Homo sapiens: one gene and its partners. The protein of the gene in region 4 purifies or fractionates together with the protein of the main gene of each other region. This does not show direct contact. Each region holds a gene or a part of one and is shown on either strand. Other genes may lie near its edges. The genes, in order: LIN7A, ADCY9, PALS2 and SLC20A1.

Region 1 (7,588 bases), on a different chromosome or scaffold from region 4:
TTTAATTTCATCCGAAATATTTTAACATCTAACTCTGAATTAGTAACTCTTCATTCTGAAGTTAGTAATTTTTAATGCAGATGCTATGATACAAATATTTTTCTTAGCATAGATTGTATTCATACATTTTATTGTATGGTTGGCACAAAGAAATTAATGAAAGGTTCATTGTATTTCTGTTCATTAATTATATTACCTTCCACCACCTAACTCTCAATAGCTCTATTTAGGCTTGTTTTTTTTTTAATTATACTCCAAAATGAACTGCCGATTTTACCCAAATACACACTGTGCCTGCTTCCTCATCCCTGGCTTTTCTCTCCTGCTCCCTATAAGGCCATTCTCCCTATCCCTGTCTTTTGTAATTCTGACATTATTCTAGATCTAGTTTAGTCATCAATTTATTCATTCTTTGCACAATACTTAGTCACTAATTGCTCTCTTTCTTGTTTGTTTATTGACTTTCTCTTCCTTAGAGAATACAAGCCAAGTGAGAACAGGAAATTTTTCTTCTTCACTGCAATACCCCAATGCCTAGTACAGTGCTTGGCATATAGTCAGTATATTAAGTGTTTGTTGAATGAACAGACAAATAAGTAGTTATCAAAAAAAAAAGATAAACTAAATATAGTAAGATATTCTATGATGGTTTTAAAAAATAAACATTTAAATTTCAAAGTATTGGTTGGCACTTCATCTTAATCTAGTGCTGTTTTGACAAAGCTGTATGAATTAAGAAAGATAACATGTTATCTTGAATCAGTCAAAAACAATTTCTAACACCCAGGCTGAAAGAACTCCAGTTTGAAGGTGCTATTTTCTCATATGAAACTGTGCTCATTATACTTCATTTATAATCTAACTAAACACATTTCCTTGGTATGCTAATGCTCTATGCAAACCTTCTCTAGATTTTGTCATATAATTTTTAAAAATTCAATTAAGTGAAACCGACCTTAACATAGCTTTGAATGATTTTGTTAAGAACAGATTTTATATATCAAATAGGCAGTTGTTTAAATATTAACCTATATGTATATATAATGGAACCAGTATCATAGTTCTTTTGTCCTTTGACCTAACTTCCCTTCATCCATTCCTCTCTCTATGTCTCAAGCCAACACACACACAAAATAAAAGAGAGAGAGAAAAGACATGTGTGTGTGTATATATACATATAATATATCATATATATGTATTAAATATATTTCACATGTATTAAATACATTAATATTATATTAAAATATATTTATAATATATATTTATATCTCTTAAAAATATATATCTTAATAGATATATATTTATATATCTCTTAAAAGATTTTATAACCATATATATACTTATCTGGAATTCTGAAATAAAAGGCTGAAATCACTAAATCTTCAACAACATAGAATAAAGTGTGATGAGGCCCAGCGTGGTGGTTCATGCCTGTAATCCCAGCACTTTGGGAGGCTGAGGAGACGGATCACTTGAGGTCAGGAGTTCGAGGCCAGCCTGACCATAATGGTGAAGCCCCGCCTCCATAAAAAACACAAAAATTAGCTAGGCATGGTGGCGGGCGCCTGTAGGCCCAACTATTTGGGAGGCTGAGTCAGGAGAATCGCTTGAACCCCGCGGGCGAAGGTTGCAGTGAGCAGAAATCGCGCCACTGCACTGCAGCCTGTGCGACAGAGTGAGACTCCATCTCAAAAAAAAAAAAAAAAAAAAAAAAAGAACAAAGTGTGATGTTTCTTAGTGGAAAGCACAGGAGATTGTGAAGCCAGGTGCTACTATTCTTAAGCAAGTTGTGTAACCTCTGTGAGCTTCAGTTTACTTATCTTCAAAACGGCATAAAAATACCTACTTCTCTGGGCTGGAAAGAAAGGGAAAGAGAGACCAACTTAGCACCAAGTCTGGCACATATAAGTGCTCAATAAGTATTTATTGAATTAGTTAACTCCATGAAAATATAGTTACCATTAAACTAAATTTCTACATATCATTTAATGAAAGAGTGTAGTGATTTTGTAACCAAATAGCTAAGATAAAAGCATAATTACAAATATTTTAACAATTCTCAGGTAAATACACAGCAAAGCAACTGGCATGTGACTAGATCAAGTATATCCCTGCATGTCTCAAAACGAAATTCACAAATATTATTGGAGAGATAGTATTTATTCATAAAAACAAATTCTAATGGATAATGAATTTTTATTAATTTTCTACACCTGTGTAGACATAAGCTAAAGGGAATGAACTTTCCACTACTAAAAATAATAACAGATGAATTTATGGTGATTTATGCTTCCTTTTAATTTCTCTTTTAATCTTGATTTAAAAACAACAACAACCCTACAGAGTCAACACAGAGAAAGAATGACAGAGCAAATTTCAAATAGGAAGCTCAAGGCAGAAGTCCAGAAATATGCTATGAAATGTTTAGTCCTGAGGATGCATTAGGAAACAAAAAGACAAAGAAAACTCTACCTTCACTGACACCACAATCAGGGATTTGTGTTGGAATGGGTACAATTTATGACTTTTGGGCTGATGAATCAAGCTGCTTAAATACATATTCCCTAATAAAGGATGTTGTAAAATAACTACATTAGAAGTCAAGGGATTTGTATGTTCTTTTATCCTCAGTTACCGAGTGAGGTTTAATAACTTTGTGCAAAAGCTTGTAACACACTCTGGTATCATTGCGCTCATCTCAACTTCTTTCTGTTGCTTAATTCAGGGCATGTGAATAACGGTAAAAAACCAAAGTTGTTTTTGCAACCTCTGGCCACCGAGGGCACTTCCTTTTAATAGTGCTTAGAGTACTGCACAGAAGCTTATGGTTTGCTCACTGTCTCCCAAGCAAGACTGGGCAGAAAGGGGGCCATCTCATTAATCTTTGCATGGTTAGCACCTAGCACAGAGCTTACCACACGGTTCCAGGGGATGTATGCTTGTATAAATAAATTTGTATATTCTTTACTGTTTTCAAAGCACAGTCACATGTATGACTCCATTAGACCCTCATAAAACTCTGTGAGATTGCAAGGTAGAATTAGTTTCCTCATATGACAGATCTCTGTGACATTGAATGATATTATTTCCATTGTATGACAGAGGAGGAAACAGGATCAGTGAGAGATTGTGTGACTTCCGAAGAGTACATGACTAAGACTCAAATGTCAAGATCAGCATTCTTTCTTAAATACTAAATAAAAATAAACATATCGAACTACTATTTTAGGTTTGTTCTTAGGGTCTGTTAAGTCTATATATGGCCAATCATCTTTGGCTTTCCCACATTGGTGAAATGTTGTTTTTTAAAATTCAATTGTAGACTATAAAATGAAAAAGACCTTCAGAAATCCTATCTGTAATCAGAAGAAAATGGCATCAATTATATGCAAATATTTTGCTATAAAACAGTATCTGCCTTTTAGAGTTTATTGTTAGCCCAAACAATTCAGCTCTGTCACAGGAAACAAGATGGAGGCAGCTTTGTCATTTCCAATCCTGCACCCACAGTCACCCCTATTCAGCTTATAGAAGGTTTCTTTATGTTTCTTGATTTCGTAGTCAGGAAATGAATCCCTACTATGACAAGATAGTGAAAGTAGCCTTTTTATTGGGGCGAAGAGGTCACAGCCAGTATTTGAAGGCTCTCGTAATTTAATCCTGATCAACTGACTCTAAAGTCAGGTTTTTAATAACACCATCTCCCACTAGATTACAGGCTACAGGAAGTCGGAGACTAAATTGAACTCCTAAATCAAGGCGTGGCACAAGGCAATGTAACTCTTCTATCTCAATTCCTGGCATATATGTTAATCAATCGATAAGTGGCATCTCTGAACCACTGGTTAGAAATCAACATGAAAAGTGCTAGGTACATATTTTTCAAACGTAGTCATAGACAACCAAAATCAGTTTGGACATTAAGAGCAAAGTTTTTGTTGCTGGGTGGGTGAGGGGGAGTGGGGCATGTTTACAGGATGTGGTATGTAAAAAATTCGGAGAAAATCTGAACACTGTACTTGTTTCTAAGCTACATTTACTGAATTGGTAATGTATTAACAGTGGCTTGAAAAAGAAAAACTTAGCGATAGAAACTTACCTACACGTTTTTTATTTTGAAGCACTTTTAAGAGGTTTGCCTTTTTTTTTTTTTTTCTCCAGGCAATATACTCAGGTCCTAAATGAACATCTACTGATGGAACGCTGGCCTTTAGTCAGTTATCTTTATATGCCGTTATAGGTCAACATTCCGAAAAACTTCAACAGAAATTAACTGCAAATGTAATTACATCCCAAACATTTCTGATAATGGAAGCATTTTCTCTCTAAAGGGGATGGGATTATTGGATTGGCAATTTCTCTTAATCTGAGAAAACTCATCTCCCACTCCCTTCCCCATATCCCCTTTCCATCCTCTCTCTTCCCCTTATACACACACGCACCCGCATGCACACACGTATATTCTGACCATTTTATTAGAGTGGAAAGTTGAAAGGAAGCAACCCGCCAGCTACACCCACCCAGCGCTCCTGGGGGTGGAATAGCAAAGTTCTAGGGCAGAGCCTTCCCTCCCAGAGCCCGGCGATGCAGTCGCTCTCGGATACCTGCTCAGCTCCGCACCGCAACTGAAGATCTGCCGCCGCGGAACAGTTGCGTCTCCATCTGGCTACCAACCCACCCAAGCTTTCTTCTCCACCACCACCACCTTCCTTCCTTCCCCCTCCTCCCCCTCCTTTCCGTCTTCCCTCTCCACCCCCGCCCCCAATCTCCTCCTTTTTTTCTCACTACGAGCGGTTGCTGATGCTGAAGCCGAGCGTCACTTCGGCTCCCACGGCAGACATGGCGACATTGACAGTGGTCCAGCCGCTCACCCTGGACAGAGGTAAGGGAGCGGCTCGCTCGCCAGGCCACCGCGTCCCCTCTCCCCTCCTCCCTTCCCCGCCTGCCAATTCCCAACGGGACATGGGACGCGCTCAGGCAGGAGGAGAAGGGGAACGAGGACGAGCCAGGAAGGCGTTCGCGCCGAGAACAGAACACTTTCTTCCCCTTTCTCTCCCCGCTACGTTCCCGCTGCCCCTTCCCACTGTACTCGCCCCGCCGAGGGGACGCCTCCTTCTGGCTCTGGGGTCCCCGCTGCCACTCCCAGCCCCTCGCCGGGTCGTCTCCGGTCCTCTGGCTTTGTTGGAGCCGCTGCGCGGGGACGGCTATAGGCGCCAGGGGCTCGGGGTTGGAGAGGGGCAGAGAGCAAGCTCGCCCGGCCAGAGCCCAGAGGAGACCGGCGAGGGAGCCGCCTGTCAGCTTGCTTGGCGCAGGGGCCCGGGAGGAAGGAAGTTTGTCCAGGCGCCGGAGGGCGAGGGTCGGTCCAACTGCTGGAGTCCCGGCGGCCACTCGGGGGGCGGGCTGGGCGCACCCCTGGGCTGCCGGGCGCACAGTGGCGGGGCTGCAGCAGGCAGGGAGCTGCCCTCTGCCGAAAGGGCAAGGCAGAGCGCGGGGAGCCGAGCCCCAGCAGCCGAGATCGGCTCTCCGCGGCTTCGAGATCGAAAGCGGCGAGGGTCGCGTCTGCTCCCGCCGCCGGCAGCTCCCGGTCGATAGCAACTCTCGGCTTCTCCCGCGCCAGCCTCTCGTGTCCTCTCCCAGCTCGGTGCCACCGCGGCGCCCAGGCTGCGGAAGGCGCGGGGACAAAGCGCAGGTCGGGTTAAAATTCAACTTCTGACCTGCCACCCAGTGAGTCCTGCTCTCTGACTTGAACGGGGAAAGTGTTCGCTTCCTCCCCAGGACGCCCTCACAAGCTCAGGGATGGAGTCCTCCGCTGCGATCGGGGCCTCACTGGTGCACCCCTGTGGGGTTATACCTGTCCCTGAGTGTGTGGGTTTCCTTCCTGGCTCCAGCGTCCAGTGATGAAGGCGCTCGAGTCCTACGGCTCTGCAGAGGAGGACACCCTCTAGTCCCTCTCCGCAGCCGCCGGATTTAGGACCCTGGGCGGCCATTTGGAAATGGTGTACTCAGAAGAAAATGATTTAGTCCGATGTACCTCTAAAAATTTTCTTTCTAGAGGATTAAACTGAACGATGGGCAAGGCAAAAGAACATCCTGCTGAGAGTACAGTAACAAAGCCAGTGAACTCAGTTTGAGGTTTTTAATTTGGAGAGACTGTGGGTGACTTTAACGCAATCTGTTGGCGCCAGAACAGATGTTCTGTGGTGCCCATAGCAACCTTTCTTAGGGTAAGAGTTGAAAAATAAAATGTAATTGATTTTATATTAGAAAATGTTGATTTGTAAGCTGGCAAAATTAATAACAGTAGTTAAAGACCTCAGAAATCCATTGTATAATCCATGATTTTACCCACAATATCATCATCTGCACTAAGCAGGATAAATCCATTGCCGGTAAGAACCAAACAGATGGCAAGCTATCAGAAACTATGAGCTTCCCAAGTATTTATGTTTTAATGTAATGAGCTCTTATATTGTCCCATTACAAAATCACAGTCGTTAAACATCCCAAATCAAGTGACTATGTTAGGAGCAAAAACTCCAAGAAGATTGCATACCTGGGTCATTTTATATACTACCACTACTACTAATAATACAAATATTTCAATGTTGGGTTTTACCTTAGCCCTTAGATGCCTCAGTCGGTTGATGAGAGGAGGTGCTAATCGGACTAAGATTTATTTTTAAAGTTTGCTCTTGTTCACAGCCAAACTCTACTTGTCCTTCTGAGTGTAATTACGTACATGCAGTAGCTCAGGAGACAAGCAGGTTTACCCTGTGGATGAGTCTGAAAAAATTCATCAGCAGCTCATGGAAAATCTATAACCAAGAGATGATGGGTTATTGGCATCACCACTGAGCATAAAGTCAATATATATAAATATTGTTCTCCGTATCTTATTCAAATATGATTAATTACTTTCATTATTAAACTGATGAAGGAAAAGGTTCTAAAAATTTCCCTTCAAAAAAGGTGCATTTTTAAAGAGGCAACCCAGTATTACATATCTGGGTCCTAGCTGCAACTCTGATACTCACTCTGCATACATCAGCCTCTCTGGACATCAGATTCTCTCTGTGCCACATCAGGAGTTTGAATTAGATGATTCTAACACTGTGCAGCTTTAGCAGTCTATAATTCAATTAATTAGAGTTAGGACTCAGTTTTTGGTCACCTACTGGGAGATTTTCCAGATCACCTCTCTCCCAGGCTGCTTTGGTACCCTTTGATGCGCTCTAAATTGACTTGCTGCTTTGGCCCCATTAAAGCATTTATCACACTCTGTTGCATTTGTCTATCCCTATTGGATAGAACTCCGTGAGGGAAGAGACCATTTCTAAATTCATCTTTGAATTCTCAGTGTCTGCTATAGTCCCTGACTCACAGTACAATAAAAAAATAATGTTAAGTTGGTGTAAGTAAACTCAGGATAGCAGTAACTTAAGCAATGTTAAAATATAGTGATTTCCTAGTGAACTGAGGTGCATTTCATAGATTCACAGTATTTTAACCATGGAAAGGATGATAGTGATAACATAGGCCAGAGATTCTCAACCTAGCTTTCCCCTATACACTTGATGGATTGCCGTCA
Region 2 (7,023 bases), on a different chromosome or scaffold from region 4:
GGTGGATCACCTGAGATCAGGAGTTCAAGACCAGCCTGGCCAACATGGCAAAACCCCGTCTCTACTAAAAATACAAAAATTAGCTGGGGTGGTGGTGGGCACCTGTAATCCTAGCCACTTGGGAGGCTGAGGCAGGAGAATTGCTTGAACCTGGGAAGCGGAGGTTGCAGTGAGCCAAGATCGGCCACTGCACTCCAGCCTGGGCGACAGAGTGAGACTCTGTCTCAAAAAATAAAATAAAATAAAAAAAAGATTCATTAGCAACTGTAGTTGTCAATAATAAATAAATTAACTGATTATACATTTACTCAAATAATACAACTGTTAAAATGCAGTAAATATGGAAAACATTTAAGATTTTCATTTACTAGGTGAAACTATATATGTACTATAGGTACAACTAGGTATTTATATATAGTAAAAATATGTACAAGATTTATACTTAGGATATAATGAATGAGTGATGATTACAGCTTTAGTACTTAAAAGTAAAGCACCTAGCATCTTTTTTTAACCTTTTATTGATGTGTATGTCAGTATGCACAGAAGAGTACCTGATCATAAAAGGACAGCTCAGTGCATTTTCACCAGAGAACACACCCATTTAACTACCACCCAGACCAAGAAGTAGAGCATTACCACTACCCCAGAAGCCCTCCAACCCCACCGCTGCTGACCCCCTCTCCCCCGACCTGACCACCTCCCTAGGGGCAGATTTTAAATGGCACTGAAATATACCAAAGTGTCAACCGAAGCCACGTTTGGCTGGTTAGGACTGCAAGTGATGTTTGCTTTCTATTTTTTTCAGTTTTTCAATCCCTCTTCTCCATGATAACGGATTACACTGTATTTTACTCTAACTTCCATTTATGACTTATAAATTAACTCCTGCATTTAGTCACATGAAATGCCTCTTTTTGAGCCAGGTGTGGTGGCTCACGCCTGTAATCCCAACACTTTGGGAGGCTGAGGCAGGTGGATCACCTGAGGTCAGGAGTTCGAGACCAGCCTGACCAACATGTTTGTGAAACCCCATCTCTACTAAAAATACAAAAATTAGCTGGACGTGGTGGCGGGCACCTGTAATCCCAGCTACTCGGGAGGCTGAGGCAGGAGAATTGCTAGAACCCGGGAGGCAGAGGTTGCAGTGAGCCTAGATCGCACCACTGCACTCCAGCCTGGGGGACAGAGCAAGACTCCATCTCAAAAAAAAAAAAAGAAAAGAAAAAGAAATTCTTCTTTTTGAAGTGGATCTTTGCTATTTGAATTTAGGAATAGGATCGGCTCCTTTGTTCCTTTGGTATTAAAATAGGAAACACACATTCTAGCTGGGAAGCTGTCCTCGTACCTGTTTCTTACAGATGCCTTCTGTTGCGAGGCAGCCCCCTTGGTTTCTGAGTGCACATGCTGTGTGTGATGGCTTTTCTTCCTTGGAAGCAAAGGTGGAAAGCAAACGCTGTGCTCTGCCTTCCTCTCCCTCTGGCACTAGCCCATGTGCTGCTGTCCCTCCTCTGCCTGGAGGGGCCTGGCCTGCGCCCGTCTCGAGTCAGCTGTGCTGCTGGCTCCGGCTCCCGCAGATTAGAGTGAGCTGTACAAGCGATAACTGATTGAGAAGCCCAGATACAGTCTCCCATTTCCACCACAGAGACTGGAAACACCCCCTGCACATAATGGGGATGTTAGACCTTGGTGACACCTGCTCCTAAAGGGGACTGTTCTTGGTGTCACCACTTTGAGAAACCAAAAGAAAGGTCAACTCCTAACCCAACGAGCGGGGCTCACAAAACCTTCCCCCAGTCCATATTCTCTTCCTGCTCTATTTACAATCAACCAGAGGGCTCATGGAGCTGGACAGAAATATGTTTGAGTCATCATCGTAACAAATGGTTATTTTGCTTAGTACTTGAGATGTAGGATATGTAATGTCATCTGTTTCAATAGCAGTTCACGAAATGAGTCAGTGAAGCACAGGGTGTCTTCCCACTGAGGACTCTTGGTTCCTGGTCATAGGCGTTGAGTCACAAAGCCCGTATCAGGGCTCCCAAGACCAGCCCCAGGTGGACTCAGGACTCCGCAATCTGCTCTCTCACCGCTGTGATTACAGCGAAAAGACATAAGGCAGAATCAGCAAAGGGAAGGGTGTGTGAGTTGACGTTTGGAGGAAGCCGGCACCAGCTTCCAAGAGTCCTCTCCCGGTAGAGTCACACGGGATGGGCTTAATTCCTCCAGCAGTGAGTGGTGACAACACTTGTAACATGCTGCCTACCAGGGAAGCTCATTAAAGTCTCGGTGTCCAGGCTTGTATTAGGGGCTGTTCAGGTCTCCCGCCTCTGCCCAGCACGTGCCTAAATTCCAGACTTCCAGCAGGAAAGCGGGTATTCAGCGTAAACCTCCTTATTTAGACAGTGTAGGCAGTGTGAGCCGCTCTTATCAAGGAATGGCAGGAACCCTCCCCAAATCCCAGCTCCCTGGTGCCAGCCACCACCTTTGCAGGCAGGTCTTTCCAAGGATGGCAGCCTCAGGCCTTTCCTGCACGGAACCTTAGGCTGGAAGGGACGTAGCCATGCTCCAGTCCATCTTCACAGCTTACAAGCGAGGAAACTGAGACCCAGAAAGATGGCATGGCTTACCCAAGATTCTGAAACTCCCCCGCGGTCCAGCCAGGATGGGGCCCAGGGGTTCTGTTCCACCCACGGCCAGGGCTTTTGGCGGTTGTGCTTCGCAGAGGGCCGTGATGGCCACACAGGTCAAGCTCATTGTTTTTTAATATCCCAAGAACAGTTAGTGAAACTTATTAGACACTTTGATTAAAGGACTGAGCTTTTGGCCGGGCATGGTGGCTCGTGCCTGTAATCCCAGCACTTTGGGAGGCCAAGGCGGGTGGATCACCTGAGGTCAGGAGTTCCAGACCAACCTGGTCAACATGGTGAAACCCTGTCTCTACTAAAAAATACAAAAATTAGCCAAGTATGGTGGCGCACACCTGTAGTCCCAGCTACTCGGGAGGCTGAGGCAAGAGAATCACTTGAACCTGGAAGCGGAGGTTGCAGTGAGCCAAGGTCGCGCCATTGCACTCCAGCCAGGGCAACAGAGCAAGAAAGAAAAAAGAAGAATTGAGTTTTGGCCAGGCGTGGTGGCTCATCCCTGTAATCCCAGCACTTGGGGAGGCTAAGGCAGGCAGATTGGTTGAGCTCAGGAGTTCAAGACCAGCCTGGGCAAGATGGCGAGACCCTGTCTCTAAAAGAAAAAGAATTGAGCTTTCCAGTGTGATGGAGCTGTCTAAACTGTGGATCCGCCAGTCGCATATATAAGTATATAGTGACCAAGCCCATTATTGCATCAAATCAACTGGCCTACTCTGTGCGCGGGAGGAATGCATCAGGGTACAGCATTTACATGAACAGAACAGTCACGGTGTTGTAAAAAAGAAAAAGACTAGAATGCAGTTCAACAAATGTTAATAGTGATTGCCTCTGGATGGCAGGACGATGGACAAATCTTTTTTGTCTATTTTTTTCTACATTTTCTATGATGAGTATGTAGTATTTTTAAATGGGAAAAAATGTATTCCAGCACACTGGGGAGGCAGAAGCAGAACAGTTTGAACCCAGGAGTTTGAGACCAGCCTGGGCAACATAGTAAGACCTCATCTCTACAAAAAGTTCAAAAAATTAGCCAGGTGTGGTGGTGTGTGCCTGTAGTCCCAGCTAATCTGGAGGCTGAGGCGGGAGGATCGCTTTAGCCTGGGAGGTCAAAGCTGCAGTGAGCTAGGATCGCACCACTGCAGTCCAGCTTGGATGACAGAGACAGACCCTGTCTCTTCTTAAAAAAAAAAAAAAATACATATATATATATATATATATATATATATATATATATATATTTCAAACAAACTTTAAGAAATTGTGCTACTCAGCCAGGTGTGGTGGCTCACACCTGTAATCCCAGCACTTTGGGAGGTCGAGGCGGGCAGATCACTTTAGGTCAGGAGTTTGAGACCAGCCCAGCCAACATGGTGAAACCCCGTTTCTACCAAAAAAAAAATACAAAAATTAGCTGGGCCTGGTGGCGCACACTACTCAGGAGGCTGGGCCGCAAGAATCGTTGAGCCCAGGAGGTGGAGGTTGCAGTGAGCTGAGATCACACCACTGCATGCCAGCCCGGGCTAGAGAGTGAGACTCTGTCTCAAAAAAGAAAAAAGAAAAAGAAAAAAAGAAATTGTGCTACTCACCACTCATCTGCAGCCCCCTGACCATGGCTGTCTCCATCAGTGCCACTGAAGTGGAGACAGCCCCGCTGAAAGCAGGCTCAGTTATCAAAGGGAGCAGAGACTGGGCGCGGTGGCTCACGCCTGTGATCCCAGCACTTTGGGAGGCCGAGGCGGGTGGATCACGAGGTCACGAGTTTGAGACCAACCTGTCTCTAGTAAAAGTACAAAAATAATCTGGGCATGGTGGCGTGCACCTGTAGTCCGAGCTACACAGAAGGCTGAAGCAGGAGAATTGCTTGAACCCAGGAGGCGGAGTTTGTGGTGAGGCGAGATCACGCCACTGCACTTTAACCTGGGCAACAAAGCGAGACTCCTTCTCAAAAAAAAGAAAAAAAAAAGCAGAAACTGGTTCAGCCTTGTTTAGAAGGGCAATTTGGAAATTTCTAAGGAAATTCTAAATGTGCAATATTTAAAATGACTCAGCACTTCCATACGCACAAAGATAGGGGTAGGGGAATATTCCCTGTGACACTGTTTGTGGTAAGAAAAGACAGACTCGGGCCCAGTTCCATCAGGGGGAATCTGGCTAAATTACAGAATTTCCGAGTGCTGGAACACTGCACAGCCATGAGAAAATAATGGCACTGGTTCAGATGTTAGCATTGTCCTGAGTGATTTCGGCAAAAAGAACTAACCCAGAATCAGGGGAGATGGCGTCTTGTCAAACTTTTTTATACAGGTAGAGAGTATAGAACTCATAAAAGCTATTTGTAAAATGATAAGTTTATTGGATTAGAAATCTAAGAACCAAGGCCAGGCGCGGTGGCTCACACCTGTAATCCCAGCACTTTGGGAGGCTGAGGTGGGCGGATCACCTGAGGTCGGGAGTTTGAGACAAGCCTGACCAACATGGAGAAACCCCGTCTCTACTAAAAATACAAAATTAGCTGGGTGTGGTGGCACATGTCTGTGAACCCAGCTACTGGGGAGGCTGAGGCAGGAGAATCACTTGAACCCGGGAGGCGGAGGTTGTAGTGAGCCAAGATCTCACCAGCAACAAGAGCAAAACTCCGTCTCAAAAAAAAAGAAATCTAAGAACCAAATATATCAGAGAATGTTAAATTTCTTGGGTATGATGATGATATTGTAGTTACATAGGGAAATATCCTTATTCTTAGGAGATACATGCTGAAATATTTAGAGCTGAAGTGCCATGTCAGCAACTTACTTTCAAAAAGTTCATTCAGCAAAAAGCCGGGTGCAGTGGCTCACACCTGTAATCCCAGCACTTTAAGGCAAGCTGATCACTTTGAGATCAGGAGTTTGAGACCAGCCTGGCCAACATGATGAAACCCTGTCTCTACTAAAAATACAAAAATTAGCCAGGCATGGTGGCACACACCTATAGTCCCAGCTATTCAGGAGGCTGAGGCAGGAGGATCACTTGAACTCAGGAAGCAGAGGGTGCAGTGAGCCAAGATCGCACCACTGCACTCTAGCCTGGGCAACAGAGCAAGACTCAATCTTAAAAAAAAAAAAAAAAAAAGATGTTAGGCCAAGCACAGTTCAAGCCTGTAATCCCAGCACTTTGGAAGGCCAAGGTGGGAGGATGGCTTGAAGTTACGAGTTTAAGACCAGCCTTGGCAACCAGCAAGACCCTGTCTCTTCAAAAAAAAAATTTTTTAATTAGCTAGGTGTGGTGGTACATGCGTGTAATCCCAGCTACTTAGGAGGCTGGGCAGGAGGATCGTTTGAGCCCAGGAGTTTAAGGCTGCAGTGAGCCATGATTGTGCCATTGCACTCCAGCCTGGACAACAACCATGTCTCTAAAAAAACAAAGGAGAGAGAGAAAAGAAAAGATTTTTGAAAGAAGCTAAAGACTTCTAAAAAAAAAGAAAAAGAAAAAGAAAAGAAAAACGATTACCAAGCACTTACTAAAGATGTTAGTTACAGGGCTGGGCACAGCAGCTCACGCCTGTAATTCCAGCACTTTGGGAGGCCAAGGCAGGAAAATTGCTTGAGCCCAGGAGTGCAAGACCAGCCTGGGCAACACAGTGAGACCCCACCTCTATTTAACAAAATGAAATCAATCAGTTTCAAAAGTTAGTCTTTATCCCTCCATACCTTCAGCCAGCCCAAACCAGGAATGGGCAGCTTGACAGCTTCAGGTTGTTGAAGGCCTGGACTCAACAAAGCTTTGCGTAGCTAGCGGGGCTGTTCTGAGCTTGGAAGCGCCGAGCAGTAACCTCTCCCTTTCCCGTGTCTTTGCTCTCCAGTTCCGAGAGGAACCCGTGCAATAGTTCGGTGCCGCGTGACCTCCGGCGGCCCGCCAGCCTCATCGGCCAGGAGGTGGTTCTCGTCTTCTTTCTCCTGCTCTTGTTGGTCTGGTTCCTGAATCGCGAATTTGAAGTCAGCTACCGCCTCCACTACCACGGAGACGTGGAAGCGGATCTTCACCGCACCAAGATCCAGAGCATGCGGGACCAGGCAGACTGGCTGCTGAGGAACATCATCCCCTACCACGTGGCTGAGCAGCTGAAGGTGTCCCAGACCTACTCCAAGAACCATGACAGCGGAGGGGTGATCTTCGCCAGCATCGTCAACTTCAGCGAGTTCTACGAGGAGAACTACGAGGGCGGCAAGGAGTGCTACCGGGTCCTCAACGAGCTCATCGGGGACTTTGACGAGCTCCTAAGCAAGCCGGACTACAGCAGCATCGAGAAGATCAAGACCATCGGAGCCACGTACATGGCGGCGTCAGGGCTGAACACCGCGCAGGCCCAGGACGGCAGCCACCCGCAGGAGCACCTGCA
Region 3 (7,023 bases), on a different chromosome or scaffold from region 4:
TATTAATTTTTGTTGTATTAATGGTATGTTTTAAATGTCTTTATCTCTTAGATATAAATACTGAAGTATTTACAGATGACATGATATCAAAGATTTGCTTCAAAATAATTCAAGGTGAGGAGGAAGTGGGGAGGGGTCTAATTAAAACAAGAAATTGCCACGATTATTGAAGCTAGGCGATCGGCATAGGGACTCATTTATTCCCTCTTTTGTATATATTTTTGAATTTCCATTAAGTAAAAAAGTAGACAGGAAAAAAAGGAAAAAACATGTAATAGAAACTAAACATCAGAACACCCCACTTTACCAATGATAAACCATATAATAAACATGCCTGTTAATGATCTCGGAGCCCAGTTACCCCACTAGTAAAATGAAGGCGTTCAATTAATACGCATATTTTAATATTGGTCCATTTCATTTTACAAAGGGGAACTAAACTTTTGATTTAAAATAAAGTGTACAATGATTTTCAAGTAAAAGAATACTGTTCCAGATCCTAACTACATCTAATTAATTTTCATTCTGTAGCACCTTATATAGCATGTTTATTTCATAAGCATAATTAGCTAAGAGTTGGCCAGGCACGGTGGCTCACGCCTGTAGTTCTAGCACTTTGGGAGGCCGAGGTGGGCAGATTGCCTGAGGTCAGGAGTTCAAGACCAGTCTGGCCAACATGGTGAAACCCCGTCTCTACTAAAAATACAAAAATTAGCCAGGCCTGGTAGCGCATGCCTGTAATCCCAGCTACTTGGGAGGCTGAGGCAGGAGAATCGCTTGAACCCGGGACGGGGAGGTTGCAACGAGCTGAGATCGCATCAATGCACTCCAGCCTGGGTGACAAAGCAAAACTCTGCCTCAAAAATAAATAAATAAAAATAAATTAGATAACAGTTAAACATGCTCAAAAGAAAAGGAAAGATTTTAGAAGGAAAATCGTATGGTTAGCTCACGGTCAGAAGCTTGGTAGTGATTCCTGCATCCACCACAGCCTTGTGCATGGCACGTAACGTCTCTAGCTCCGGAGCCGCAATAAATACCACATAGGGCATAAACTCTGATGTCCTCAATACTTTCAGTGCCTGTGTAAAAGAATAATTATAAGCCAATTTATACAATATTAGAACTAGAATTCTGCTACCCTTTAGTATATATCAAAGGCTGTTTGCACTTGTTCTATGAATTAAAGGACATAACTTAATACTTATCCCTGTTCTGTCCTTCTCATTCCATATAGTACTTTCTTAAAACAGTGATCCATTTATTTTGTTTTGAACTCAGTCTGTTCCTCTTGAACAAAGTATAAAACAATGATCCAAAAATCATCAAGAGTGATGTAAACTCTTTTTTATGTTAATTGTAGAATTCTGTTAATACTCAAAAAGTAGAAATAACCTCAATGTTGATTAATTGGAGAGTGGTTAAATGAATATATATTCATACTATATAGCAATTACAAAGAAAAAAAGCTCTACAGTAACTACCACAAAAAGATCTCCAAGGAATAGTTCTATTTAATAAAACCCCTGAAGAATCTATATAGAATTTTTCCATTTATGTAAAAAGAAACAACAAAAACAGAAAACCCATTACCTTATATATATTTGTATTTAAGGCATAGTGAAATGACTAGAAAGAGACATAAGAAACTATTAACAATTTTTATCTCTGAGTAGGGACGTGAGGTTGGGCTGAGTGTAGCGGAGTGGGAAGGGGTAGGTGACAGAAATATAGAGTGACAAAATGAATAGTGTAGAGGTGTGCATGTGTGTCAGGTAGGAGGGGGAGTGACTTTAATTTTTTATTCTTTATATTGCAGACTTGAGTTTTAAACTTAACATTTCTTAACACAAGCACTTATGCATTACTTGAACAGGTAAATAAATACATACTAAACTTCTATTGTAGATCTAATCACACAGTTTCTATTGCCACCCAAGCCTCTGTTGGCTAATTGTTCAGAGATTTATTTAACTAGCTATGTATACATAATAACATTCTCTATCACCCAAAGGTAATGGAGGGAGTCACCTTTCCACCCTGACAAAACAAACAACCCCAACCCAACAACCCCGACACACATGAAAAAAACTCCACAGAAAATAAAATATAAAACAGCTTTGGAATCCAAGCAGCTTACTTGTGGGTTGACATCCAGAATGCAAGTCCGTCCAGTTTGGACAACCTCAAGAATAGAATCAATTTTGGTTCCATAGAGATTTCCTTCATATTCCCCATGTTCCAAATACTTTCCAGCTTTAATATCTGCTTCCATCTCAGATCGTGACACAAACTTATATGCCTGGCCATCTTTTTCATCTTCCCTTGGTTTCCGTGAAGTAACTAAATAAAATAGTGTTGAGATTTTTGTACAAAGAAATTTTAGGGCATAAAAAATAGACTAAAATACATAGGGTGGCTTAACGTTTTTCCACTGGGTGCAGCAAACTGTAGGCTATGACCAGATCTGATCTGCTTCTTATTTTTGTAAATAAAGTTTTATTGGACCACAGCCATACTCATTTGTTTATGTATCATACATGGTTTCTTTCCCATTAAAATGGTGGTAGTAATTGTGACAGACTGTATGGACTGCGAAGCCTAAAACTTTACCATGTGGCCCTTTAATAGAAAAGTTTCTTGATACCTTAGGGGAATATTTTAAGAGGTAGTCCCCCAAATAAAATTTGTATCCAAAAATATGCTTCTTAAAATCACTTTGAAACTCAAAGTATATTTACCTAGCAGCAGAGCCTTCAATGAAGTTCTTAATTATGGTAAGTGTTTGAGGCATGTTGTGAGTGAGTATCTTTTCAACTGACCAGCACTCTCCTTCTCCTTAGGAATCTATTACATCTTTTCTTTCCACATTAACACTTCCTAACTGCCCCAAAACGTGAGCAAGCAAAGTTCACCTGTTCTTAGTTGTGATACCAATTTTGTAAAGTGCAGTTTTACCCACAAATTATCTATCTTTTATCTTACCTCAAAACCAACGCTTTTAGCTTCCTGTTTATTGATATTCCCAAATGTTAACTGTTCTATTTTATACTTCAGTGGTAGAGCTAGACGCCTCATTATTATTATGGTCTATTAACCTCCTCTCCTCTGACCTGACATATTATTTCTGGGAAAATGAGATTGAATAGCTCAAGTCAAAATTTAGAAGTAGGAGATCCTTTTGTCTGATATTTTACAGCTTTGAATACTTTCAGAGACATACAACCCTTTGCAAGTTGGTCTGTGCTAGGAACGGTTATTACCATTTTTTAAACTGTTGCAAATGTGTACTCTCTGACAACTTTGTTAACAACAGCTTTGAAGAAGAAAAGTAATTTTTGAGCGTGTTATTTCAAGCTTAGCCTTACTCTGGGCTTTGCTGGATCGGATATAAGAAGTATCCTGTTTCTATTAGCTAAGTAGTTGGAGAATAACTGATGGAATTATTAACTACACCAAACTAAACTAAGAAAGTAATCCGAATAAAAAGATGACAGTGTTTTGACTATTTCTAATAAGCCTAAGACATAGAAAACTTTTATAAGAACAAAATGAACTTCAAACTCATGCTCAAAAATAAGGGTCAAATGAGATCATTATGTATAATAGGACTCCTGTTTTCCCCTTGTTTTCTGGCTCAACCTTGAGAGTGGTCGTCTTAGACTACTGTGAAGAGTATTTATAAAGTATCTTTGAGAATCTTCAAGATGCTATGATGGCTTTTCATATTTAAAACTGTGTGATCTTTAAGGTTTCTGGAATTAGTCACCAAAGGTGTGTATAATAAAACTTCTCAATAAATGTAATCCAGCATATAAACAGAACCAAAGACAAAAACCACATGATTATCTCAATAGATGCAGAAAAGGCCTTTGACAAAATTCAACAGCCCTTCATGCTAAAAACTCTCAATAAATTAGGTATTGATGGGACGTATCTCAAAATAATAAGAGCTATCTATGACAAACCCACAGCCAATATCATACTGAATGGGCAAAAACTGGAAGCATTCCCTTTGAAAACTGGCACAAGACAGGGATGCCCTCTCTCACCACTCCTATTCAACATAGTGTTGGAAGTTCTGGCCAGGGCAATTAGGCAAGAGAAGGAAATAAAGGGTATTCAATTAGGAAAAGAGGAAGTCAAATTGTCCCTGTTTGCAGATGACGTGATTGTATATCTAGAAAACCCCATTGTCTCAGCCCAAAATCTCCTTAAGCTGATAAGCAACTTCAGCAAAGTCTCAGGATACAAAATCAATGCATAAAAATCACAAGCATTCTTATACACCAACAACAGACAGAGAGCCAAATCATGAGTGAACTCCCATTCACAATTGCTTCAAAGGAATAAAATACCTAGGAATCCAACTTACAAGGGATGTGAAGGACCTCTTCAAGGAGAACTACAAACCACTGCTCAACGAAATAAAAGAGGATACAAACAAATGCAAGAACATTCCATGCTCATGGGTAGGAAGAATCAATATCGTGAAAATGGCCATACTGCCCAAGGTAATTTACAGACTCAATGCCATCCCCATCAAGCTACCAATGCCTTTCTTCACAGAATTCGAAAAAACTACTTTAAAGTTCATATGGAACCAAAAGAGAGCCTGCATCACCAAGTCAATCCTAAGCCAAAAGAACAAAGCTGGAGGCATCACACTACCTGACTTCAAACTATACTACAAGGCTACAGTAACCAAAACAGCATGGGACTGGTACCAAAACAGAGATACAGATCAATGGAACAGAACAGAGCCCTCAGAAATAACGCCGCGTATCTACAACTATCTGATCTTTGACAAACCTGAGAAAAACAAGCAATGGGGAAAGGATTCCCTATTTAATAAATGGTGCTGGGACCACTGGCTAGCCATACATAGAAAGCTGAAACTGGATCCCTTCCTTACACCTTATACAAAAATCAATTCAAGATGGATTAAAGACTTAAACGTTAGACCTAAAACCATAAAAACCCTAGAAGAAAACCTAGGCGTTACCATTCAGGACACAGGCATGGGCAAGCACTTCATGTCTAAAACACCAAAAGCAATGGCAACAAAAGACAAAATTGACAAATGGGATCTAATTAAACTAAAGAGCTTCTGCACAGGAAAAGAAACTACCATCAGAGTGAACAGGCAACCTACAAAATGGGAGAAAATTTTCCCAACCTACTCATCTGACAAAGGGCTAATATCCAGAATCTACAATGAACTCAAACAAATTTACAAGAAAAAAACAAACAACCCCATCAAAAAGTGGGCGAAGGACATGGACAGACACTTATGCAGCCAAAAAACACATGAAAAAATGCTCACCATCACTGGCCATCAGAGAAATGCAAATCAAAACCACAATGAGATACCATCTCACACCAGTTAGAATGGCAATCATTAAAAAGTCAGGAAACAACAGGTGCTGGAGAGGATGTGGAGAAATAGGAACACTTTTACACTGTTGGTGGGACTGTAAACTAGTTCAACCATTCTGGAAGTCAGTGTGGCGATTCCTCAAGGATCTAGAACTAGAAATACCATTTGACCCAGCCATCCCATTACTGGGTATATACCCAAAGGACTATAAATCATGCTACTATAAAGACACATGCACACGTATGTTTATTGCGGCATTATTCATAATAGCAAAGACTTGGAACCAATCCAAATGTCCAACAATGATAGACTGGATTAAGAAAATGTGGCACATATACACCATGGAATACTATGCAGCCATAAAAAATGATGAGTTCATGTCCTTTGTAGGGACATGGATGAAATTGGAAATCATCATTCTCAGTAAACTATCGCAAGAACAAAAAACCAAACACCGCATATTCTCACTCATAGGTGGGAACTGAACAATGAGAACACATGGACACAGGAAGGGGAACATCACACTCTGGGGACTGTTGTGGGGTGGGGGGAGGGGGGAGGGATAGCACTGGGAGATATACCTAATGCTAGATGACGAGTTAATGGGTGCAGCACACCACCATGGCACATGTATACATATGTAACTAACCTGCACATTGTGCACATGTACCCTAAAACTTAAAAGTATAATAATAAGAGGGGAAAAAAAAAAACCTTAAAAAAATAAAAAAATAAAAAAACTTCTAAGGCAACTTGTAACTCCCCAAATAAATGCATAATAGGACTTGGTTCAACATTGTGAACATTAATTTTAAAAATTAATGTTTTTTCGGTGAAGTCCTACAGTGAAACCATATAGGGGAATGCGCTGCTTGAAATAAATATGTATATGCACATGTATTACCTCTACCTCCATGCTGAGGGAATCTTAATTCTTAGAGAAATGTTCTTTAGTTTACAAGTGAATTTTAACTACAATCCTATTCTCTACTAACACTTCAAAAAACAATCTACGTTGCCACATATTTAAACTGCTTTCCATTTCTAGAACAGAGAAATTAGAACATGAAGGTTTGACTACAACTGATTCCTTAGACTTCTATACTGCGCAACTACATAATGTGATTTTTTAGAAGTAATTTTTTATGATAGGCAAAATTCTCAATTTTAGCTGCTCTTCAAATAATGAAGACACAATCAACAAAGTAATACTTCATTTGTTAACTAAGCTCAAGATGTCAAGATGTCAATGTTAAATTGAAAACAGGATGCATAACATAGCCCATCTCCCTAAAATAACAATGTTTTTCTATTTTATCTTAGGATCATTTTGTAATATATAAAGAAAGTTAAATCACCTTAATTTTATAACAGAAAATTTTAGAAATTCAAAAATATATGGAAAATAAGCAATATACTCCCAAATAACCAATGGATCAAACAAGCAATCACAAGTGAAAGAAAATACTTTGAGAGGAGATGGTGCTGTTGAAGAGCACAGTTACAGACAGAGCTGACCAGGCTCTTCCAGAGTGCCAGTTGTCCAGCAGCATGTTCATTACCCTGAAGATGTATGATGGTTGAACTAAACCCATTCATTCTAAGAAAAGGTTCTGTGGAGGGCTTTAAGCCCTTGATAATTG
Region 4 (7,872 bases):
TTCCAGCAAGTTGCCTTTCTTCCCTGTTTAAGAGCTGAGAAAACTGGGCCTTGGGGAAAGCGAGAAGTCCCAGTTTAAGTCACCAGAGACGTCTTCCTAAAGAAGTATTCAGGATGCTGTGCTATCCAGAAGCTGGCTCCAGAGACACCTGGACCATTTCAAGCTCTAAGAACTGTGCTTCTGTTCCCTCTGCCTGGCTCCTATGCCATATCACACCCACATGTGTGAACTCAAAGCCAAAGGGAAGAGACCAGGCCATGTGCAGCCAGGACAGAGGCATGTAAAATCTAGAGAGGGTGGGCCAACCTCCCATACTCCTGTGTTGGCGGAGAAATAGACCCACCAGTTTGTCTGGCACAACCAAAACTCAGCTTTCTTGCCATGGGATGCTGGCCTGAGACCAGTCACAACCAGTCTCAACCAGTCTCCATATCAGGGCTTGGCTGTCTGGGTGCTTTCAAGCACCCTTCCCCCACCTGGATCCCAAGCATCCCTTGGACTCTGCCAGGACAGAGCCACAGATGCCGGGGGAAATGGGAAATGACTGGAGACACAGAGGACAGCCACATTCAAAGCTGGTGGGAAAGTGGTGGTGGTGACATGTGGCCCTTGCCTGAAACATTATTTTGAATTTATTTCCTGTAGGAATTGACTACAGGTGGGTTTTGTCTTGCAAGATAGGTTTCCTTTCTTGAGAAATCTCAAGAGAACAGAGTTTTCAGTAACTCTAAGACACGGTTAGGCCACTGCAACAACTTTATTTCTGGAGAGAACATGTGCTCTGGCTTCCTGCCTCTTCCTACTCTGGGGAAACTGGGGCCAATCTCGAAGACTGATCTCCTAGAAATGTCCTTTTTTATTCCAACAGGGTTTGATGCAGCTCAAAATACAGGCTGTAAAAGCAACAGAGTTAATAAAAAGGAGGGGGAAAGAAGGAGGAAGTAAATGTGTTAAGTGCAAATAAGAGTTGGCACCTAGGGCAATCATACTTGCCTCAGTACTTGCTGGCATCCTGGGAAAAGGCACTTACAATCTTGAAATTTGTTAGGTTCTTCGCAGCTTTAACTGCCGCTTCCTTCTCTGTGCCTCCGTTTCTCTGTCTATAAAGTAAGGGGAAAATACCTCATCTGAGATTTATTGAGAGCATCACCTGAGATAATCCATGCAGAGCACCTGAAATAGTACCTGGCACACAGTAAGCATTCAACTGCATCACAGATATTATTATTATTATTATTTTGAGATGGAGTTTTGCTCTTGTTGCCCAGGCTGGAGTGCAATGGCACGATCTTGGCTCACCGCAATCTCCGCCTCCCGGGTTCAAGTGATTCTCCTGCCTCAGCCTCCCAAGTAGCTGGGATTACAGCCATGCACCACCGTGCCCAACTAATTTTTGTATTTTTAGTAGAGACAGGGTTTCTCCATGTTGATAGGCTGGTCTCGAACTCCCGTCCTCAGGTGATCCACCCGCCTTGGCCTCCCAAAATGCTGGGATTACAAGCTTGAGCCACCATGTCCAGCTACAGGTATTATTATTACCTCATTCATCTGGGGATGGGGAGGGCATTGGTGGGTGGAGAGGAGCTGGTTCTCCTTTACTCCAAGGCTCCTACCTTCTCTTCCCTGGATGTTCTCGCCCCTGCTCCCATGCAAGTCCTCACAGACGGCCTCTGAAGCCGCCTTTGTTCCTGGTCTGGTTCCACAACGTTCCCATGCCCACTTGAGCTCCCTCTACTCCAAGTAGACTATTTCCAGGATGAGTACTTCAAGTACATCGAACAGTGACCTCAAATGCATTTCCTTGACTGTGCCTCTCTGAACTAAAAAGTGCAGAAATGTCATTGCTTCCTTCTTTTGTCTGGTCTTCCACAGGGCTAGGTTGGGATCCGGGGGGAGAGTAGCTTTCCTAGCTCTCAGCAGCTCAACTCCACCGAATTAGTGAACGATGGACATGTCCCCAAGAGGACTCTAAACCCACAGTCCCCAACATGGTGTTCTGCAGCATGCCACAGGTCATCTTGTTCTGTCCTCTCTGAGGGTGAGGTTGGAGAGGGACCCTAGGCTCACAGGCTCAGTGACAGTGACTCACCAAAGATCCTGTGGGCAGTCAGGGTCTGGGCCAGGCCAGTGAGCCCATTCATATGGCATGAGCCACAACACTGTTCCTCTTCCTCCGGCAGCAGCCCGTTTTGCGTGTCCCCTCACTATGAGCCGTGGGAGAAATTTGAAAGGGCTTGGATCAGAGGGCAGGGAGAAGAGGGTGGTCCTGACATCTGACACATACTTCATTTTAAACATGGGCTATGTATGACAGGCCTTCAGCTAGTTATTGAACAAAGAGAATAAGAGCCCTTTTACAAGGGCTTTACATATATTCATTCATTTGGTCCTCACAACAGCACTGTGAGTTAGAAGTCTCAATCTCACCCCTTTACAGATCAGGAAACTGAGGCAGATAATTTATTTGCCTATGGTCACAGGACTAGTGAGTGACAGAGCAGGTGGTTTGGTCTTACAGTCTATGTGTTTAACCACTACACCAAACCACCTCCCTAAGATGCTAGAGGGGGTTTGTGCCAATGCCTGGATTCTAAGAGATTAGATTCTCTTTAGGATCTCTGACCTGTTTCCTCAGCATTCAGAGATAAGGCCAGAAACAATGCCATTTGTGCACGAACTGACAACTGACGGTCCTCCTACCTCCTATTTCTATTTAAAAGGCACTGTAACTTCTTTCCACAGGCAGATCCCTACCTCTCCTCCCTTAGGGGAGGACGAAGGTGTCCCAGCCAAGGAAGATCCTGGTCTCCAAGGGCTGTACCCTACTGATCCGGAGGCAAAGCAGTGAGGGCCCACCCCAATTCCTCACCTCCCATTCTACTCTTCGGCAGAAGCATCTCAGTGTTGGAAAGATAAGGATTTCTTCCTAAAAAGGAAGGATTACACTATATCAGAGTCTGAAGATACAGTTTTCATTTGCAACGCAAGGGAATTCCTTTGAATCTCTACCTTATGATTTCCCTGCAAACCCACTCCGATGGGGCTGGAGAGTGCTCTCTCACTCAGATGAATCTCTCAGGGGTTGTCCAGCAGGTGTTTGCCAACTTGAAGAGCTACCTACTATCACAGACCTATAAAAGTACGCCTGTGGACAGACTGAAAACAAACAAACAAAACACACACACAAACACACAAAACAACCGCACACTGGGAGAAGTTCTAGGCAATTTCCTTGCAAATAACTGCTTTGAAAATTACTGTTTTAAATTGGCAGAACACTAAGGACTTTGAACAGATCATCCCTTTTACTCAATGTTTTCATAACCTTGAAGTGAAGGTGGAGGGAGCAGTACGTTTTAAGGTGCCAGGATTACACTACGGGGTCAGTGCTCCCGGATATGAACTTTCTTTTTCAGACCGACCTTGGGACCTACAGCTTTGTAAGTTACTCATACAACTCCATCAAATGTTACAGGTAGGTCAGAGGACATTCAGGTTGTTTAAGCCTCTATAAATGACTCAGGCAGCAACAATTTACAACGTCTTTGTTTCTGCTATGCAGTGCCCTCCTGCTAGAGATGGCAAAAATGTGGGGAGGGCTTCAGAGCATTCTAAGCCTGGTATTTCTGGCTGGAATTTTTAAATCTCACTACAATCCTGACAAGAGACCACGACCTTAATCTCCCACGGCATGACTGGTTAGTCTTGATCGTAAGCCATATAATCAACACCCAAATGTGCATAACACATCTAAATAATGTCAAAACTACACTATATACCACGCAGGGGACCAGAAATCAATCTTTACCTCAAAAGGATAAGCTTCCAGGATGCAATAACATCCCCTTCCACCCTTTTCTACACCCTAAAACAGTAATATTCACGGTAACAGCAAAGCGGAAATCAGCTTTTCCTGAACATGTACTGAATTCTAGTCACATTCACACACGTTAATTCATTTAATTCCAGCCACAAGGTAGGCAGCCTCTGTTAACATTTTACAATTGTGAGAACGCAGAGATCTGGGACTGGCTCAAGGTGACACACTGCAGCAAGGAGTCAGAATTTGAATCCGAAGCAGTGTCCTTCCCCCTCGCAACAGCTGCGGCGTTACAAACACAGGTCAGCCACGGAGAAATTAATGACCCACAGCCATCCTTGCAGCTCTGCGCCATAACTGGGGAGACAAGCTGGTTCCCGTGACTCTTCAGTCTGTTTTCACCCAAGTGCATGACTGCGGGAGCAAAGCGACCACGTGAGCATCCCCCCCCCACCCCCCCGCTTCCCCCAGGCGAGGGACAGTGCCAGGCCAAGGACAAGTCACAGGTGCAACAACGTGCCAGAACTGGATCCGGAGCCCCAGGGCGCAAGATCTCCCGCAGCGTCACCCGGCAGAGGGACGGGTGTGGCCACCGGGCGCGGCAGGTCCTGCGTGCGCTGAAAGTGCGGCTGGAGGCGCGGACGGCTTTCCGGAGCCCCGAGAGAGGAGCTAGGAATGACTTTGGTCGCAGCCTCTGTAACCCCGCATGACGGCCTCTAGGGGGACAGCGAGGTCCCCCTCGATCTCTGGCTGTAATCAGCCGGCGGGGCCAGACGGTGCCGAGACTCCAGGGCGAGGCCGCAGGGAGGGGGCTGTCCCGCCCCACGTGGACCGGCTCCCCGCTGGGGGCGTGGCCGCCGAAGCGGGCCGGGCCAATGAGCGCCACCGTCGGGCTCACCCGGCTGGGCACGCCGGGCCGAGGAGGGCTGCGTCATGCCGGGGGCGGGGCTTCGGGGCCGGCGCGAGGCGCGGCGGGGTCACGCGGGTCGCTGCGCGGGCTATAAGTAGGGGCCGGCGGGGTGCTCCGCTGGAGTGATGGCTGCCGGCGCTCTCTGCGTGGTTCTTCTTCTCGGCCGCTGAAACCCCCGCGGCTGCTTCCTGGGAAGGTCGTGAGTCCCGCTGAGCTGTCCCCGGTGCCGCCGACCCGGGCCGTGTGCCCGTGGCTCCAGCCGCTGTCGCCTCGATCTCCTCGTCTCCCGCTCCGCCCTCCCTTTTCCCTGGTGAGTAGTGGCGCCGCCTCGTAAAGGCTCTTTCTTCTCCCCGGGGCCGGGCGCGGACGCCGTGGCGCTGGAGGCGGACGCCGTGGGCGGCGCGGCTGGCTTCTCTCTTCGCCGCTGGCCGCCTCCACTCCGCCCGTCTGCCCGCCCGCGGGCCTTTTTGGCGGTCCCCGGGCGGCGCGCGCGGGAACGGCCCTTTTCCGATTTTCGCGCGGAGGGCGCGCGCGGGCTGGCAGCGCAGGGGCTGGGCTGGGCGCGCGCGGGCCGCGGAGGACCCGGAGCCACGTGCCTCTCCTTCTCGCGCGTCCTACTGGGGATGGGGGTCTGGAGTAGCCGGCAGAGGCTATTGCGGGACCCCGGGCGCGTGGGTAGAGCGGGGTGCCCCACTGGCCCCCCAGGGGCACGCAGCTATTGTTATTTCCCCCCTCCCCCGCAGGATGAACTTGCGTCCTTTCTCTTCTCCGCCATGGAATTCTGCTCCGTGCTTTTAGCCCTCCTGAGCCAAAGAAACCCCAGACAACAGATGCCCATACGCAGCGTATAGCAGTAACTCCCCAGCTCGGTTTCTGTGCCGTAGTTTACAGTATTTAATTTTATATAATATATATTATTTATTATAGCATTTTTGATACCTCATATTCTGTTTACACATCTTGAAAGGCGCTCAGTAGTTCTCTTACTAAACAACCACTACTCCAGAGAATGGCAACGCTGATTACCAGTACTACAGCTGCTACCGCCGCTTCTGGTCCTTTGGTGGACTACCTATGGATGCTCATCCTGGGCTTCATTATTGCATTTGTCTTGGCATTCTCCGTGGGAGCCAATGATGTAGCAAATTCTTTTGGTACAGCTGTGGGCTCAGGTGTAGTGACCCTGAAGCAAGCCTGCATCCTAGCTAGCATCTTTGAAACAGTGGGCTCTGTCTTACTGGGGGCCAAAGTGAGCGAAACCATCCGGAAGGGCTTGATTGACGTGGAGATGTACAACTCGACTCAAGGGCTGCTGATGGCCGGCTCAGTCAGTGCTATGTTTGGTAAGTTCTTTTTATGTTTTGTCCTCTTCGTGGTGGGTGAGCAAATTTGTATCATGGGTGGTTCCATTTTTGTGCATAACCTTTCCGATTAACCTTTCTGAATGTGCCACTTACATAATGGAATTTTGATATTTACTTAATAAAACTTTACTATGTTTCAGGTTCTGCTGTGTGGCAACTCGTGGCTTCGTTTTTGAAGCTCCCTATTTCTGGAACCCATTGTATTGTTGGTGCAACTATTGGTTTCTCCCTCGTGGCAAAGGGGCAGGAGGGTGTCAAGTGGTCTGAACTGATAAAAATTGGTATGTTTAATTCCAAACGGCTTCTTAATTTTCGTTTTCGTCATATGTTACCATGGCATTAGGTATGGGAGGATGTGTTCTAACGTCGAGGGACAGACCCAAGAATTTTGAACTCTTAAACATTTAAAGTGGTTTTTGGTTTCTGATTTTCATTATTTGATATTTTTTCTTAATGTGTTCTATTCCAGTGATGTCTTGGTTCGTGTCCCCACTGCTTTCTGGAATTATGTCTGGAATTTTATTCTTCCTGGTTCGTGCATTCATCCTCCATAAGGTAACCTTTCTCCCCCGTATGAAGACCTTTCATGGAGCACACCCAATCGATTTCAAACCCAGTGGTACTTTTGCAGATGTGATTGGTGTATAGGTATGCGGCCTTGGAAAATTTTAAAAAGCTCTTTGTTCTGTGCATTTCTTGTATGTTGTGGAGTTCTCTGAAAGCGAGTTTTTAATACTCAAGAGGGCAGTCAGGAAGGAAAAATTGAATACTATGATGTGCCAAGAAGTAGGAGAAACTGGGAGCAAAAAAATAAGGAAATTTATTTTGCGTGGTTTTGTGTAGCTGTATACACATTATTTGTTTAAACCACTGTTATATTCAGGCTAATATAATACGTAAACTTGGAGTTCAAGACAGTGTCCCCTGTGGCTTTTTTAACTAAGCTGCCAGTTAAATGGGTCTCTGCCGTGCTGATTATCATAACCAGTTTATAAGCTTCTAGATGAGGACTCTGCCTCCCATAGTGACTTGACTCCAATTTCTCAGAATAGTTGAAAAGAACCAGTTAAAGGTAGTTTTTGGCCCGCCCCCCAAAAAAACTTCAGGCAGCCATTTAATTTCCTGTCCATTTGAAAATCCCTTTTAAGTGACCCAGTTTGCATTTCTTTTATCAAGAAGTCTTGCTGGCTGCAAAATAAATGTTGACAAGGGATTATGTTGGCATAGGACTGAGTTACAGTGAGGATAAATGCATTTTTCTCAGGAAACAAAGTTGTCCTTTTTCTAAGGTGAATGGCTCTTAACAATCCATTGTAAGTTCTTAAAAGTGTTCCTAAACTGTAGAAATCTGAGGGAGATAGCATAAATCCCAGCAGGTAAGAATGTATTCAGACCCACTTGTCTGGTCTAGTTGTAAGCTTCTCTAGGGAAAGATTTGTCTCTTCTCTGTAGAAATTCTATGACTAGTAAAGTGATTCACTAATCACTGTTTTCCATAGCCAGAATCTGGCAGAATATAGCAGTTTAACACTTTGAAAACTTGAAATATCTTTAGCCTGGTATAATATGAGAGTAAACAGTTCATTGATATTTATGGACTCCTAAGTTTGGTACTGTTTTATTCAGCAGACAGGTACGATAAGCATCTACCTTCCCACTCCCTACAACTGTAGTGTATGATACTGGGATGCTTAAATTAGAGGCTCACCAGTAGTCATGGACCAGATTTTTTTGTTTTTTTTAGAGTTTTCATTAGAACTGTATATCTTGCTACTTAG

Evidence for each region.
Region 1: the proteins of SLC20A1 (region 4) and LIN7A purify together in Homo sapiens (affinity purification with mass spectrometry; 3 studies listed by BioGRID and IntAct, with this or other methods). This does not show direct contact.
Region 2: the proteins of SLC20A1 (region 4) and ADCY9 purify together in Homo sapiens (affinity purification with mass spectrometry; 2 studies listed by BioGRID and IntAct, with this or other methods). This does not show direct contact.
Region 3: the proteins of SLC20A1 (region 4) and PALS2 purify together in Homo sapiens (affinity purification with mass spectrometry; 3 studies listed by BioGRID and IntAct, with this or other methods). This does not show direct contact.

Annotation. Positions count from the first base shown.
Region 1 is NC_000012.12:80,934,935-80,942,522, reverse strand, and holds the start of LIN7A (protein lin-7 homolog A), read left to right. Parts: upstream 1-4,588; 5' UTR 4,589-4,800; coding exon 4,801-4,882; intron 4,883-6,689; exon of another isoform or gene 6,690-6,787; intron 6,788-7,588. UniProt on the Homo sapiens protein: Plays a role in establishing and maintaining the asymmetric distribution of channels and receptors at the plasma membrane of polarized cells.
Region 2 is NC_000016.10:3,966,430-3,973,452, reverse strand, and holds part of ADCY9 (adenylate cyclase type 9), read left to right. Parts: intron 1-6,486; coding exon 6,487-7,023. UniProt on the Homo sapiens protein: Adenylyl cyclase that catalyzes the formation of the signaling molecule cAMP in response to activation of G protein-coupled receptors.
Region 3 is NC_000007.14:24,674,451-24,681,473, reverse strand, and holds part of PALS2 (protein PALS2), read right to left. Parts: intron 2,344-7,023; coding exon 2,141-2,343; intron 1,083-2,140; coding exon 954-1,082; intron 1-953.
Region 4 is NC_000002.12:112,641,090-112,648,961, forward strand, and holds the start of SLC20A1 (sodium-dependent phosphate transporter 1), read left to right. Parts: upstream 1-4,849; 5' UTR 4,850-5,040; intron 5,041-5,473; 5' UTR 5,474-5,739; coding exon 5,740-6,073; intron 6,074-6,234; coding exon 6,235-6,375; intron 6,376-6,563; coding exon 6,564-6,649; intron 6,650-7,872. UniProt on the Homo sapiens protein: Sodium-phosphate symporter which preferentially transports the monovalent form of phosphate with a stoichiometry of two sodium ions per phosphate ion. May play a role in extracellular matrix and cartilage calcification as well as in vascular calcification.